Linked DNA regions of Homo sapiens: region 1 is linked to region 2. The links come from fine-mapping of genetic effects on gene expression. A gene starts in region 2. The other region holds a variant in brackets. All regions are shown on one strand. Distances are between the middles of the regions.

Region 1 (8,481 bases), 200 kb before region 2:
GCCATACCTCTCTGTAAATATTTTGTTAATTATTTCAAAAGTATAAAGCAAATATGGCAAAATGTTAACATGCAGCAAGCTGGCTAGAACATGGGTGTTTCTGCATTATCCTCTTTAGTTTTCTCTGTGGTTGAAAGTTTCACTTAAAAGATAAAGCTCTGAAGCCAAGTGACGTGGAAATATTGGCTTTGCCTTACAAATAGCAGGGTGACCAACATCCTGTACATAAATCCTCACACACACAGCCCATTTCCTTGAAACAAATTCCTAGAAGTAAAAGAAATTGCTCGGTCAAAGGGCACAAAAATTAAGCCTTTTATATATCCTCCCAAGAACTTTACCAATTTACCCTTCTATAGCATTATTATTTTTTATTACAGATTTGGTAATGTAAGTGGCAAAAACTATTATAAGATTATTACTTTAGGCCAGGCGCCATGGTTCACGCCTGTAATCCCAGCACTTTGGGAGGCTGAGGTGGGTGGATCACGAGGTCAGAAGATGGAGACCACGGTGAAACCCCGTCTCTACTAAAAATACAAAAAAAATTAGCGGGGCACGGTGGCGGGCGCCTGTAGTCCCAGCTACTCGGGAGGCTGAGGCAGGAGAATGGCGTGAACCCGGGAGGCGGAGCTTGCAGAGAGCTGAGATCACGCCACTGCACTCCAGCCTGGGCGACAGAGCAAGACTCCGTCTTAAAAAAAAAAAAAGATTGTTACTTTAATACTCATTCCTTTCATTATTGGGAGAACATTTTCTAACATTGTCGATGTGTATTTCTTCTTTTGTGAATTTCTTGTTCATGTCTTTAGCTCATTTTTAACTGAGATGCTTATCTATATTGATCTATAAAAGCTCTTTAAAGATTAAAAATGTTAGTGTTTTCTCACATTGATATGAGGATTTTTTTTTTCAGTTCTTCACTTTAATATATATTGATGAGGGTTTTTTTTGTTGTTTGTTTTTTGATGTACAGGAGTTTGAGGAATCATCTCATGTTCTTTTTCTTTTTCTTTTTTTTTTTTTTTTTTTTGATATGGAGTCTTGCTCTGTCACCCAGTCTGGAGTGCGGTGGCGAGATCTCGGCTCACTGCAAGCTCCGCCTCCCAGGTTCACGCCATTCTCCTGCCTCAGCCTCCCAGGTGGCTGAGATTACAGGCATGTGCCACCACACCCAGCTAACTTTTGTACTTTTTAATAAAGACTGGGTTTTACTATGTTGGTCAAGCTGGTCTCAAACTCCTGATCTCAGGTGATCCGCCCACCTCGGCCTCCCAAAGTGCTGGGATTACAGGTGTGAGCCACCATGCCTGACCTAAGGATCTAGTAATCTAGGATGATCTATCTTGCCATCCTTGATTACATGTTCATAGCCAGGTTGACAGAAGAATCCAGGGGGTTACCAGGTGCTCAGTAAACAAACTCAAGGATCTGAAATCTTCACTCCATCCCACTTGCTGCTTCCTTCTTCCCAAGCCCATTATGACTCCTTTAATGACCAGCAGCCCAGCGACTTTCCTCTGGCATGGCCTCAAGCACTGCTTCAGCTCCACCAGGAGCACCAAGGCACTAGAGGCCAGGCAGGAGCAGCCCAGGTGGAAGGCCCCAGGGCGAGGAGGAGCCCCAGCAGCCTGCCTCTTTCCCTTTCGGTGGGCCCTTCTTCTCCAACCTCCCATCCAACAGTCAGCACACGTGCCTTCCTCCTGCACCCTTGCTGAGCACACGCCCACGTCCACCCTGACCCCACACCCTGCACCCCAGAATGTCTGATTGGTCCCCGGAGGCATTGCTTCCCAGACACCTCTTGTGTTCAGCTCACACTGTTCCACCATCCAAATGTCCTGCCTCCTCCCCACTCCTCCTCTCTCCTGTTCATCCTTCCATGTCCCCCTCCTGCAGAGGGAGAATTTGTCATTTGGTGAACACCTTGCAAGTACCAGATACTCTGCTAGCTGCTTGTGAACACTGTGTTACTTCATCCTCCTCTGTGAGTGTCCCAGTGCTGCCGTAACAAATCACCACAAACCGAGTGGCTTAGAACAGCACAAATGTCTTCTCCCACAGTTTTGAAAGGAAGAAGTCTGAAATCAAGGTGTCCACAAAGGCTGTAAGGGAGAGACCTTCCTCACCTCTTCCAGCTTCTGGTGGCTTCAGACTTTCCTTGGCTTGTGGCAGCATCACTCTAATCTCAGCCTCTGTCTTCACATGGCTCTCTCCTCATCTCCCTGTGTGTCTCCCACTGTATATTTCTTATAAGAACACCTGACATTGAATCTAAGTAATCTGGAAGGACCTAGTAATCTTTTTTTGGTTTTTTTGTTTGTTTGAGTCGGAGTCTCACTGTCACCCAGGCTGGAGTGCAATGGTGCAATCTCAGCTCACTGCAACCTCTGCCTACCTGGCTCAAGTGATTCTCTTGCCTCAGCCTTCCAGGTAACCAGGATTACAGGTACGTGCCAACACACCCAGCGGATTTTTGTATTTTTAGTAGAGACAGGGTTTCACCATGTTGCCCAGACTGGTCTTGAACTCCTGACCTCAGGTGATCCACCCGCCTCAGCCTCCCAAAGTGCTGGGATTACAGGCGAGAGCCACCGCACCCAGCCTCTTTGTTTTTGTCAAGGTGGAGTCTCACTCTATCACCCAGGCTGGATTGCAGTGGCACAATCTTGACTCACTGCAGCCTTCACCTCCGAGGTTCAAGTGATTCTCCTGCCTCAGCCTCCCGAGTAGCTGGGATTACAGGCACCACCACCACACCCAGCCTTTTTTTTTTTTTTTTTTTTTTTTGGTATTTTTAGTAGACAGGGTTTTGCCATGTTAGCCAGTCTGGTCTCAAACTCCTGGCCTCAAGTGATCTGCCCACTTCGGCCTCCCAAAGTGCTGGGATTACAGGCGTGAGCCACCACACCCCGCCTAAGGATCTAGTAATCTAGGGTGATCTATCTTGACATCCTTAATTACATCTGCAAAAAGCCTTTTTCCAAGTAAGGTCACATTCACAGGGTCCAGGAGTTAGAATGTGGACATGTCTTTTGGGGGTCACCATTCAATCCACTGTACCTTCTAACAACCGTTTGAGGGAAAGAGAGCGTTACTCTCATTTTATAGTTGAGGATGCTGAGGCTCAGACAGGGTAAGGGCCTTGCCTAGGATCACACTGCTACCAAAGGCAGCCAGCATCTGAATCTACCTGATTACAAAGTCCGTGTTTTCTCCACTATACCTATAACTCTTCCATAAGCCTTTTCTCCTTTCCTCCCACCCTTCACCCCCGCTTTTCCTGCCTTTGAACCACCTCTGGGTGCTTCTGTGGCCCTCTCATCTTTTCATGCATTTTTCTTTTTTTTGAGACGGAGTCTCGCTCTGTTGCCCAGGCTGGAGTGCAATGGCGCGATCTTGGTTCACTGCAACCTCTGCCTCCCTGGTTCACGCCATTCTCCCACCTCAGCCTCCCGAGTAGCTGGGACTACAGACGCCCACCGCCACACTCAGCTAATTTTTTGTTTTTATATTTTTAGTAGAGACGAGGTTTCACCGTGTTACCAGGATGGTCTTGATCTCCTGACCTCGTGATCTGCCCGCCTCGTCCTCCCAAAGTGTTAGGATTATGGGCATGAGCCACCGCTCCCAGCCTTTTCATGCATTTTTGTTTGTCTTATCTCCTCCAGTCTGAGCTCTCCTTAGAACAAGACCTTGCCTTACTCATCTCTGTATCTTCCAAAGTGCTCTGTCTGGAGCATAGCACATGGTAAGTGCTCCATAAATGTCTGTTGAACTCCCTGCTAGTAGAACAATGATGTGGGTTAATTAGCATATAATATTAAAATGTAGCTACAGAACTGAAACTGCAGATAAAAAAAATTGCTTAATACCCAAGGAAGTTGTTGCCTGCTCTCCAAATCATCAGCACAGAAGATAGCACTCGTCACTGTGGTTGGGGAAATTGCACGGTGAAAGTCACAGGATGGCTCTGCAAGGGGGCAGGGACATCAGACTGGGGTCACGTTCCCATGTGGTATTCTGCGCCTGTAACTCATATGACACTCTGGCACTATTTCTAAATAACACTCAAGTGTCTGTTTTATCAGAGTATAACACACTTGGCTGGAATAGTTCACTTACTGATATTCCACAATTTATGTAACCAGTTCCATATTATGGGATATTTATTTAGGTTAGTGCTACTTTTTTTTTTTTTTTTTTTTTTTTGAGATGCAGTCTCGCTCTGTCACCCAGGCTGGAGTGCAGTGGCGCAATCTCGGCTCACTGCAAGCTCCACCTCCTGGGTTCATGCCATTCTCCTGCCTCAGCCTCCCGAGTAGCTGGGACTACAGGC[A/G]CCCGCCACTACACCCGGCTAATTTTTTGTATTTTTAGTAGAGACAGGGTTTCACCGCGTTAACCAGGATGGCCTCAATCTCCTGACCTCGTGATCCGCCCGCCTCTGCCTCCCAAAGTGCTGGGATTACAGGCGTGAGCCACCACTCCCGGCCTACTTTTTTTTTTTTTTAATTAACAATGCTGCAGTGAACATCTTTGAAGCTATATCCATGCACAACCCTCAGGATTACTCCCACAGGATGAAATCCTACATGTGGAGCACTGGGTCAGCCACCGTCCACATTTTCAGTGAGGCCTTTGACAATAAGGCCAAATGGCCCCCCTGAAAAATTGCAATGGTTTATAATGGTTGCAATGGTTTAATTACCCATTTGCTGAGTAGGATTTTGCCAGGTGAAAATGAGGGCAAAGGCACATCAGCTGCAAGGAAGGAAGTAAAAGCTTAGAAGCAGGCAAGCTCTGAGATGCTAAATCAGTAAGTAGGTGAATAAGCCAGTTGTTACAGCCTATAAAGGAGACTCACAGGAAAAGAGACCAAAGAGAGGAATAAGAGGCAAGTCCTCAGGGACCTTCAACCAGTGTAGGGGTTTATGTTCATCCTGTGACACCAGATGAGGCCCTCTGGCAGCAGTGGCATGTATTGTGAGAGGTCAGATGGAGAAAGGGAGATCCATTAGTGGTTGGTGGAACCTTCCCGGACAGGGAAGACGAGGGCCTGGAGGAGACCATGGGTTTGACAAGAGAAGAGCAGATACAGCCAACCACGTAACACATTACGGTAGCAGAAGAACAGCCAAAGATGTCTACATCCCATCTCAAACCTCTGAATGCTACCTTACATGGCAAAAGGGATTTTGCAGATGTGAGCAAGTTAAGGGTCTTGAGATGGGGAGATGATCCTGGCTTACCCCAGAGTATCCTGCTGGGCCGATATAATCACAAGAGTTTTTATAAGAGGAGCAGGAGGGTCAGCATCAGGGAAGGAGATGTGATGATGCGAGCAGAGGTCATGCAACGCGGGGCCACGAGGCAAGGAATGTGTGCCCCTGGAAGTGGATAGAGGCGAAGAACAGGTTCTCCCATAGAACCTACAGAAGGAATCCAGCTCTTCCAACACACCTTGATTTTGATCCAATTCGAGCTTCTTACAATTACGAATTGTAAGATAAATTTGTGTTGTTTCAGGCCACTAAGCTTGTGGTCATTTGTCACTGCAGCAATAGAAAACTAATATAGGCCAAGATATCATGCCACACAACCTGCTCCCTTGCCCTCATGGAGGGTGTCCCAAGGCAGCTTTGCCAAATAAGTTAGAGGACAATTAGTGCTGTGAGGCTCAAGGAAGAAGGATCCCTGAGGACCACAGTATGAGAGCCATTAGAACTTGGGCTGATGTAAACAGCATTAAGTACAAATGGGAAGGGTGCGTGACCTCTGGGGGCGCATGGGGCAGGGCTGCTCAGAGGCAGGGGGATGGGTAAATTGACCTCTGCCTGTCTGAGGAGTAAGTTCTCCAGGTAACTAGTACAAAAGCAAAAGAACCTCAGGGGAGGAAAGGTTTTCTAGGAGGACCCATCTTTGTCTTTTCTTTGTATATTTGTAGCATCTCTCTTACGTAAATTCTGCAGGAAAGAGAATTTTCTTGGCAGTATGCGCCAAATAAATAAACACAGCAGTATTTCTTAGGCCAGACGACCAGCTCCCAGCATAAAGCTGTAGCCCCCAGCGGAGAGGAAGCTGTCCTCCTCTACTTCCTCTCTTCTAAAGACAAACATCTTGTGCAAGAATAACATGCTCACTTCCTTCACAATCATCAAAATAGAGAGGACCCACCCACGCTACAATGTCAGAAGAATGGTGCAGCTTCAGACTCATCTTCCCTGGTTCTCAGGAACAATGACACCACATTATTGCTGCTATCGAGCTACAGAGAACTCAGACCATTACATCTGGTGGCATTCCTGGCCCCAGTAGTAGCACAGCAGGATTCCTGACCCCAGAATCACTATCTCAAGACCTGGGGTTCTAATTTGAGAGGCAGAAAGTTACAGCAACTCAAATTTATATGCATCTTACAAAATAGCTTCAAAATACATAAATTGACAATTGACTTCAAAAAGGCTTTCTCAATTATCCATAGGTCAGGCAGATAAAAATCAGTAAAGATAGAAATTTTAAAAACAATGATCAGCCTAGGCAACAAAGTGAGACCTCATGTCTACAAAAAAAAGAAAAAATTAGCCAGGTGTAGTGGCACACATCTGTCATCTTAGCTATTCAGGAGGCTCAGGCAGGAGGATTGCTTGAGCCCCGAAGTTCCAGGCTGCAGTGAGCTATGATTGCACTGATGCAGGGCAAGTAAGCTCCCAAATTGGGACTTAGCCCTGGAAGATTCTTGGCTTTGCTCAGGAAAGAATTCAAGAGCCAGCTGGTGGTAGAAGAAAACAGCTTTATGGAGGCAGCAGTGTGACAACTTTATGACTACTCCTGCAGAGCAGGGCTAACCCCTAGGCAATGTGTTGAGAGCACCAGCTCAGGGGCAGGTCAACAGTCATACATATACCCACTTTCAATTACTTGCAAGTTAAGGTATTGAGAGGTGACAGCGTGCTGGCAGTCCTCAGAGCCCTTGCTTGCTCTCAGCACCTCCCCTGCCTGGGCTCCCACTTTGGCGGCATTTGAGGAGCCCTTCAGCCCCCCACTGCACTGTGGGAGCCACTTTCTGGGCTGGCCAAGGCTGGAGCCCGCTCCCTCAGCTTGCAGGGAGGTGTGGAGGGAGAGGCGCGAGCAGGAAGCAGGGCTGCGTGCCGCGCTTGCGAGTCAGCTGGAGTTCCGGGTGGGCGTGGGCTTGGCGGGCCCCACACTCAGAGCAGCCGGCCAGCCCTGCTGGCCCCGGGCAATGAGGGACTTAGCACCCGGGCCAGCAGCTGTGGAGGGTGTACTGGGTCCCCCAGCAGTGCTGGCCCACCGGCGCTGCGCTCGATTTCTCGCCGGGCCTTAGCTGCCTTCCCGCGGGGCAGGGCTCGGGACCTGCAGCCTGCCATGCCTGAGCCTCCCACCCACTCCATGGGCTCCCGTGTGGCCCAAGCCTCCCCGACGAGCACCACCCCCTGCTCCACGGCGCCCAGTCCCATCGACCACCCAAGAGCTGAGGAATGAGAGCGCACAGCGCGGGACTGGCAGGCAGCTCCACCTGCAGCCCCAGGTGCGGGATCCACTAGGTGAAGCCAGCTGGGCTCCTGAGTCTGGTGGGGACGTGGAGAGTTTTTATATCTAGCTCAGGGATTGTAAACACACCAATCAGCACCCTGTGTCTAGCTCAAGATTTGTGAGTGCACCAATCGACACTCTGTATCTAGCTGCTCTGCTGGGGCCTTGGACAACCTCTGTGTGGAAACTCTGTATCTAACTAATCTGATGGGGACGTGGAGAACCTTTGTATCTAGCTCAAGGATTGTAAACGCACCAATCAGCGCCCTGTTAAAACAGGCCACTCGGCTCTACCAATCAGCAGCATGTGGGTGGGGCCAGATAAGAGAATAAAAGCAGGCTGCCGGAGCCAGCATTGGCAACCCGCTCCGGTCCCCTTCCACAGTGTGAAGGCTTCGTTCTTTTGCTCTTTGCAATAAATCTTGCTATTGCTCACTCTGGGTGCACACTGCTTTTAAGATCTGTAACTCTCACCGTGAAGATCTGCAGCTTCACTCCTGAGGCCAGCAAAACCACGAGCCCACCGGGAGGAACGAACAACTCCAGATGCACTGCCTTAAGAGTGGTAACGCCCACCGCAAAGGTCTGCAGCTTCAATCCTGAGCCAGGGAGATCATGAACCCACCAGAAGGAAGAAACTCTGAACACATCTGAAAGTCAGAAGACACAGACTCCAGATGTGCCACTTTAAGAGCTGTTAACTACGAGGGTCTGTGGCTTCATTCTTGAAGTCAGTGAGACCAAGAACCCACCAATTCCAGACGCAGTATGGGTTATTCAGAAATTTCTAGAAAAATGGTGGTAACTTTCACGTGGTTGCCATGAAAAGAGGTGGTAACTTCTGTGTGTTGCCATGGCAATGGTAAACTGACATGGAATTGGTTGTCAGGTCTTTCCCCCCCCCCCCCCCCCCCAGCTGGAGTCTTGCTC
Region 2 (8,481 bases):
CCTCCAGAGCCCTGAACACCCACTTCCAGGAACGAGGGAGCAGGCAAGAAGGGATGCCGGATGGAAGAACCAGCCCTGCTTCCTAGGCTTCCCCTGGCCCCCAGAATGCTCCAGGTCAGCCCTCTCTGATCCCTAGGAGCCAGGGCCCTCAGACTCCCCACCACTGGGCACCACTGCTGGCACCAGCTGGCCCCAGTAAGCCCAGTCCTCAGCAGTTGCGTAAATGAAGCAAAACAGGAGAAACAGGAGGTGAGCTCTTTAGGCCCAGACTCCAGCCTGGAGCAGAAGGGCAGGAAGCTGGGGTGCCTGTGGAGAGACAGTTGAGGGGGTGGCCCAACACCCCTCCAACTCCCCCACAATTTCCGCCAGAGGAGGCTTTAAAGTGTGACTTCCTGTGCTGGGGCTGCAGAGTGGGGAGGCGACGCTGAGATCGGCCTTGTGGTCTGACCCCGATCCAGCCACCTTGCAGGGACCCAATTAGTCTTCCTTTCCCCCTCATTCATGTGTCTGTTCATTTAATGTCAAGGTGTTGGGGGAGGTCGTGGCAGCTTCTCCTCCAAGGGCCCAGTTGAGATCCCATCTCCCTCCCGTGAAGCCACCATTGACGATGTCTGTTTCCTCCACCCCGGCTCCTTAGACCCATAGTCCCTGTGAACTCGAAGCACGTGAACTGACCCTATCTACTTTTGGCTCTTATCATAATATGGTTATGTTGGGTGACAGATATGATCTCCCCAAAGTGACCACGAACCTTATAAGATGAGAGATCAAAAAATGTCTTGGTCAGAAAGTGTCTTATCCTCCCCTGGTGTCCTCTCAGCTCCCAGAACCAGACCTCCAGACTGGGAGCAGATAAATATGGATCAACTGATCGATCTAATGATACATCTGTCTTCCACTCTAGTAGAAGCCAGTGATTCCCAAAGAGGGAGGTGAGGAGACAGCACCCCTGGTAGGAATATATTTATCTCCGGGGGAGAGTTTTCAGACCATCCCCCCACCTCCCCACACACAAGCACACACACCCTTACTTAAGAGTCTGGTGTGCTCCTCTCCTTTTGAGAACCACTGATGAGTGAACACAGTGTGTCTGAATGATACAAAGGCAGAAAGAAGTTGCAGCACCTCTCCTCCAGCTTGGTAGGCGCACCCTTCCACATGACCATTTCCCTGACCCTTAACATGCCCCAGACGGAATTCATCCATCTCCTCACCTAGACAAATGACACACCATCGACTTCCCGGACGAATGCTGAGAACTTGCCACGCTCTCTCCCCAGGGCCCCATCCCTATCCCTGCCGCCATCCCATGTGTCAGTTCATCTTGCGAGGCCTCCCCCTGTGATCTCTCGGTCCTCTCCGCATTCCTGGGTTGCCTCACACCTGGGTTATTGCAAGTGTCTTCTAGCCTCTCTCCTGCTCCCATCCGTCCTACACACTTTTTAAATCTTCATTCAGGCTTTAACTTGCACGCACAAGTGTGTGAACCTTCCTCTCCATCTCCAGGGCCTGGCTCCAAACAGCATTTCCATGGTCATGGAAATGATCTGAAGACTTCCACAGATGCCTCACTACTTTTTTTTTTTTTTTTTTGAAACAGGGTCTCACTCTGTCACCCAGGGTGAAGTGCAGTGGCACAATCATAGCTCACTGCAACCTTCACCACCAGGACGGAATGTAGTGGTGTGGTCAGGGCTCACTACAACCTCCACCTCCTGGGCCCAAGCCGTCCTCCCGAGCTCAGTCTCCCGAATAGCTGGGATGACAAGCACGCCCCACCATGCCCCGCTAATCTTTGTATTTTTTGTAGAGACAGGGTTTTGCTGTGTTGCCCAGGCTGGTCTCGAACTCCTGGACTCAAGCAATCCACACACCTCGGCCTCCTGAAGTGCTGGAATTACAGGCATGAACCACAGCACCCATCTGAGATGCCTCACCTCACTTCTAATCACAGTCTGGGCACAGAATGTGCCCTAGGAGAACAGCTTCTGAATAAACGAATGAATGAATTCCTCCACCTGGAACCATATTCAACACTCTTCCTCCATCCTCTCCCCCACTCCCTCTAATTCTCCCATTCACATTTCTTAGTGTTTCTCAACATGGTTTTTCCACTCCCGAACCAAGGTGTCTGGCTTCCTGCCACCCTGCCCATCAACACAAAATCCCATCTCTCCATTCCTCTCCTCTTCCTCACATCAGTATCCAACTCTGCTTCCCTCCTTTATAGCTACCCTGACAGGCAGTGACTTCAGATGTCAGCTCCACATCCACTTTTCTATGAGGCTTTCCCTCCGCCATCCCATCTGACACATCTCTTGTTCCTTAATTCCTTCAGCAAATAGTTAAGGGGCACAGTTAATGTGACAGGTCCCGTATGGGTGCTAGGGATGCTGAGGTGGATAATACACAGCTCGTGCTCTCAAGAGCTCTCACTTGAGTCAAAGACAGTCAGTTGTAGGCACTGAGATCTATACAGGGAGTGCTGCAGTTGCACAGTGAAGGACACTGAAGCAGCGTGGGGAAGCTCCTGAATTTTCTGGAGCTGAGCGCAGGAGCTGAGACCTGCTAAGCAAGGAAAGGCAGTGGACTAAGGCTCACCTCCTTCCCCAGTTCCTCCTCCTCCCAACTGGTGCTCCAGGACACCACATCACAATGCATTTGTGGATATTTTCCTCGGGATTGCTCTGAAATCATTTTTCACTGTAAGCCATCTTGGTTACTAGGCTGTAAGCTCTTTGAGAGCAGCAAAATCCTGTTTGCTTTGCCACAGTCTCTCCTGTATCATTCTTCCCTACTCCCCTACCCCACTTCTCTCTCTCTCTCTCTCTCTCTCTCACACACACACACACACACACACACACACACACACTGTGAGCTCTGCATTGCCCACTGAATGGTGAGAAATTCAGAAGGATGTTGCATTCCCTTTGTTTTCCCTTTCCTCCAGCTCCAGGCCAGGCTTCTGTCCCTTAGGAGACATAATCCCACCTGGGCTGAAGCACCCCAGGACGCAGGCACTTCCCTTTACCTGTTCAGGCTACCTTTACCCTCTGTTTTCCCAACACAGGTAGCCACCCAGTAATTACTACTAGTCACAGCAATATAAAAACTTTATTGAGTGCTTTCTATTTGCTACAACCTATTCCCCTGATGGACTGTCAAAGCTGTGGGCAGGGATTTTGTTCTCTGCTGTAATCCCAGCACCTATCACAGTGTCTAGCCCAGAGCGCACACTTAATAAATCAAATGAACACTTAACATGTATCAGTCTATTCAATCTTCAAAACAACAGTATGAGGTCAAGACTGTGACACCCATTTTGGAGATAAAGAAACGAAGGCATGGAAGGTTAGGTTATATAAGCTGCTCTTGTTCATGCAGGAGGTATGTGAGGGAGCCAGGGGCCGCCCCCAAACAGAAAACAGAAGCAGGATGTCAGGGCAGCTGGCTGGTGGGGAGACCGTGGGGGAAGGACAGTGGGAAGAAGGGAAGAGCGGGTGGGACTAAGGAGGCAGGAGGAGGCAGAAGAAGAAGAGTGAGACCCTGACCAGAGACGTGCTGCCTGGGGACCTGGGGCCGGGACCAGAGCGGAGCAGAGAGGAGGGGAAGGAGGATTAGCGAGAAAAGATTTCAAAAAAAGAGGCTCTGAGAAGTCTGAGGAGAGTCTGGGGAGATTGCTGGAAGAAAGGAATGGTAGGAGAGGAAGAGTATAAGGCACTAAAGAGAGGGGAGGTAGGCGCAGCCTTCAGAGGCCGGGCAGGGCAGGGAAAATCTGCCTGACTAGATGGGCCCAGGACATCTGAACAGGATGATTCCCGGACCAAGACGTGGAGGACGATCAAGGATACATTGAAACAAGGCTGAGGCCAGAGAAAGGGACATTTTCCAGTGACGAAAACAACTTTCTACCAACTTCCCCAAACTGAACTGTAGAATAAGAAACCAAGGGATTGTTGTTTAGGTCTGTGAGAAGCAGCGGGGAGGGGAAGCTGGAGGACAGGCCCAGGGACACTGACCAGGTGGGGGTAGGACTAGCTCCCTGGGAAGGCTCAGTCCCACAGCGGCTACCTGCCTAGCAGCAGGCAAAAGGGTAAAGAATGTCCCCAGGTGAGAGGCCGGGGCTTGGCCAGGGCACTGGGGACACTGTCCACTGGGTTGCCCTGCCCCATCCAGTGTCCCAGCCCATTCTCAAATACCTCCCACCATGAGCATCCCAAACCCACCACACCAGCCCATCCCCACTCCTCAACTCACTCCCCCACTTCACCAGCCGCCAAAATCCTGCCCTACAGGGTGTGCTCCACCAAGTTCCACAGGCAGCCTCGCCTCCCCACGGCCCAACACCCTCCAGGCCAGCCAGCTGACCGGAGGGACAGAATTCAGAACCGTCTGGACTCCCCGAGCACTAATCTTCCTACTCCCACTCCCTTCTTTTCCCCGCCAAATCTGCCCCACCCTGGGCCTATCTCCTGCCCACATTCCCTTGGCCGCCCACAAACTTCCACCGCTGTCAGGGGCCAGGGCTTCCTTTTACTCTCTCCCTTTCAAACTTCTCCCATTCCCCTGCCTCAGCGCAGCCCCTACTCCAAAAGGCGGATGAATGGGGAACCCCACACTGGCAGTGGCTGAGGTTAGGACCTGCAGGCCTGAGGCTGGCGCCAGGACCAGGCCCGGGCAGGAGAGGCTCGGCCCCCTCCCGGAGAGGGCCCACGCCAGCCGGAAGGTGCCTCGCCCACCAGCCCACTCTTCCCTTTGTCCCTGGTCTCACCAGTGGCAGCAGCAGGTCAGGCACGGTGGAGAGGCCCATGCCAGACAGCTATGGCCTCTCACTCCCCCATTTGGGCTCAGGGCAGTGTGGCAGCGGCAGTGCTGGGGCTTCCCGGGACTCGGTCTGTCCAGGACGTCCCAAGTGCCTTGGGGTGACAGTTGAGGGTTGAGACTCGGGCATAGAGATCACGGCCTGGTCCCAGTGATCTTGAACCCCAAAGGCCAGAACTGGAGCCTCAGTCCAGAGAATTCTGAGAAAATTAAAGCAGAGAGGAGGGGAGAGAAGGTGGGAGGGGAAGAGTGAGGCAGTGTTGCAACAGCGGGACAGGAAGAGCTGGAGGAGGAGGCCACAGGAGGCGGGAGGAGGAGGCCCAACGTTCTTTAACTCTTTGTAGTCCAGTCACAAGCACAGGAGTCCCAGATCTGGCTGCCTTGTGCCCCCAACCCACCAATCCGACCACTCCCAACCAAACACCAAGGGGCAATAAGCCCCTTGCCCACATCACTAGCCTTTCCCAGATGGATCACAGCAGTGAAAAGATCCAGAGTCTGGGAGTCAAATTCTCTGGGTTCCAATTCAGAATGCTTAGCTTTTTAGCTAAGAATGTGTCTTGGACACATAAATGAACTTCTCAGACACATAACTGAAACTGTCTGGATCTGTTTTCCAATTTGCAGAGTGGAGATAACCTGTCTCCTGGGGTTCCTGTAAGGATTTGTTCAGATGGGAGAGATATAGATAAGCGTCCGACACATGATAGGTACTCCATGTCCCTTAGTAATCCTCCCCTTTACTCCAGAGTTCTTCACTAGCCTCCTAGTCTCCCTCTTTCTTGGGAATTTACTGATCCAATCCAAAACTCAAAGTAAGTCCCAACCCTCGTTTTCTGCCCTGACTGGGTGCCTGCCATTCCTCACCCCAGGTCTCATCCAGTCTCTGCCTGGCCAGGTCCCCCCACCCTGCCCCACTGTTGATCCTGGCTCTGCCACCAATCATGCGACATCAGGCAACTCCTCTCCTAAGCCTCTGTTGGTTCCTTGTTTATTAAACAGGGGTAACAATGTCTGCCCACCTACATGGGGAAAGTGATGCCATGAGAATCAATGAGACGTATCCACGAAGCTGCCGTGGAAATAAAGATACCTCCATCAGGTGTTCCTAGCATATTCCCAGTGCCCTTTTCCTAAATATTCCAATACATCAATTATAACTCACCTTACAGATCATCGACTACAACCCCCTAGGTTTTTTTATTTCTTCGTTTGCTTGTTTTTCATTTTTGTTTTTGTTTTGAGGGTCCGCTCCGTTTCCCAGGCTGGAGTGCAGTGGTACCATCGCAGCTCACTGCAGCCTCGACCTCCCAGGTTCAAGTAATCCTCCCACCTCAGCCTCCCAAGCAGCTGGGACTATAGGTGCATACCACCACGCCTGGGTAATTTTTGTATTTTTTGTAGAGACAGGGTCTCACCATGTTACACAGGCAGGTCTTGAACTCCTGGGCCCAAATGATCTGCCCACCTCAGCCTCCTAAAGTGCTAGGATTACAGGTGTGAGCCACCGTGCCCACCCAACTGCCCGGTTTTATAGAGGAGAAAACTGAGGTCCAGAAACCCAATGTGCCAGGAGGCAGAGCCAACAGAGAACCCCAGACTCCCGACTGCCGGTCCAAGGGCCCCTTTGGCTATGAGAGACACACTGCCACTTTTTCTGTCACTGAGTCAGACCCCACATCCTGACTCTGGTTACTTTATGCCATCCTCATTGATGCAGACATCTCCCAAGAGAATCCTACAACAAAGGTACCACATTTACCCAACTATCTTCTTGGTACAATGACCTTCCCTACATCCAGCCCCGCCCAAGGGCCTGCAGCTGCTGAGGCTGCTAGAAATGCAGGCAGACAGAGAAGAGGGAGGTCCTAGGGCTTTGGAACTTGAAACCAGAGCTCCTCACCCCTTATCCCTCTGAGATGACCTCCCAGCCCCAAGTCCACCGTCCCCTGGCTCTTCCTGGCTTCCCCTCTGTGATCCGCAGATGAGAATGGAGCTTCAGTGTCCCTCACTGCGGGGGGAGCTGACTTTACTCCACCCCATCGTCCAGCTTCTGGAGAACTGTAGGGTTGAAGCTGGATTCAGAAAGGAAGCAGCTCACCACCATCACAAAGGGAGACCCCAGGGACAGGAGAAGCGAACCCAAAGCAGTGTTCTTGAAGAAGCAGGAGCCTCAGAATCAAGTGCAAGTTTCCAGTATGAAGCAGCGAGAAGAACCTCGGTCTGCTCATCTAAAAAATGGGAAACCTGCTGGTACCCTTCACAGAGCTAGCTTGATGCTTAAATCAAGCATATAAAGTGTTTGGCAAGTGTTTGCCATATATTAAGCATTTAGTAAGTGGTAGCAATTAATTTTTTTTTTGAAACAGGAGCTTGCTCTCACCCAGGCTAAAGTGCAATGGTGCAATCATAGCTCACCTAACCTAGAACTACTGGCCTCAAGCTAGCCTCCCACATCAGCCTTCCGAGTGGCTAAGACTACCATCGCACACCACTATGCCCAGCTAGTTGTATTAATGATTAATAACAACTTCAGAAGGATAAGTGATACAGGGGAGTATGGTATGTGAGAGGGCGGCAAAAAAAAAAAAAAAAAGCAGAGTGCGGTGGCTCACGCCTGCAATCCCAGCACTTTGGGAGGCTGAGGTGGGCGGATCACAAGGTCAGGAGTTCGAGACCAACCTGACCAACATGGTGAAACCCTGTCTCTACTAAATATACAAAATTAGCCAGGCGTGGTGGCGCGTGCCTGTAATCCCAGCTACTCAGGAGGCTGAGGCAGGAGAATTGCTTGAACCCAGGAGGCAGAGGTTGCAGTGAGCCGAGATCCTGCCAGTGCACTCCAGCCTGGGTGACAGAGCGAGACTCTGTATCAAAAAAAGAAACCAACTTCAATGTCCTATTTTTTTTTTTGATAGAGTTTCACTCTTGTTGCCCAGGCTGAAGTGCAGTGGCACAATCTCGGCTCACTGCAACCTCTGACTCCCGGATTCAAGCAATTCTCCTGCCTCAGCCTCCCGAGTAGCTAGGATTATAGGCATGTGCCATCATGCCCGGCTAATTTTTTGTATTTAGTAGAGACGGGGTTTCACCGTGTTAGCCAGGCTGGTCTCAAACTCCTGACTTCAGGTGATCCACCCACCCTGGCCTCCCAAAGTGCTGGGATTACAGGCATGAGCCACCACGCCCGGCCTCAATGTCCTATTTTTAATGTTATAAGGTATTTCTAATAGTCTGTGCAAAGCGCCAAAGCCGTGACACATAGCCTGGTACAAAAGGAGAATATTTTTCAATATTTAGGATACATGCTTATTTACTCAATAACTTTACAACTTTGACACGTCATATTACATTTTTCAATAAAATTTTGTTTAAAAAAAAAGATGATGAGAAGTGAGTGGATCTAGGAATATGAAAAGCTAACACGTTTCGTGGAGGAGGTGAGAATGAGACCATCATCCCTCCAGGGACAGAAAAAAATCATGGTCAGAGGAGATGGAGAAACAGGAGAGGGGCAGACTAGGGATGACAGAATCGGCTGTTAGGGCTTGTAGAGCAAAGGATGAAGAAAACAGCTACAGAGAGCAGGGACCTTCCTCCCGCATCATGGCACACACACACACACACACATGCTTAACCCAAAGGGTCACTGGACTCCAA

What was found. PIP is the estimated chance that this variant, and not a neighbour inherited with it, causes the effect.
Region 1: its variant is fine-mapped to the expression of TNFRSF1A in whole blood (TOPMed, PIP 0.96).

The regions. Positions count from the first base shown.
Region 1 is chr12:6,135,080-6,143,560 of GRCh38, forward strand. No RefSeq gene overlaps it. Among named protein-coding and RNA genes, the nearest start is that of VWF, 15 kb to the left of the region's middle. RefSeq lists an enhancer at 7,268-7,825. The variant A/G (reference allele first, on the strand shown) is at 4,340.
Region 2 is chr12:6,337,005-6,345,485 of GRCh38, forward strand. TNFRSF1A (TNF receptor superfamily member 1A) reads right to left here and starts at 5,072. Exons shown (of 10, transcript NM_001065.4): 1 at 4,772-5,072. The coding sequence starts at 4,810. It also overlaps the pseudogene RN7SL391P. RefSeq lists enhancers at 1-800, 117-206, 199-493, 267-316, 4,875-4,974.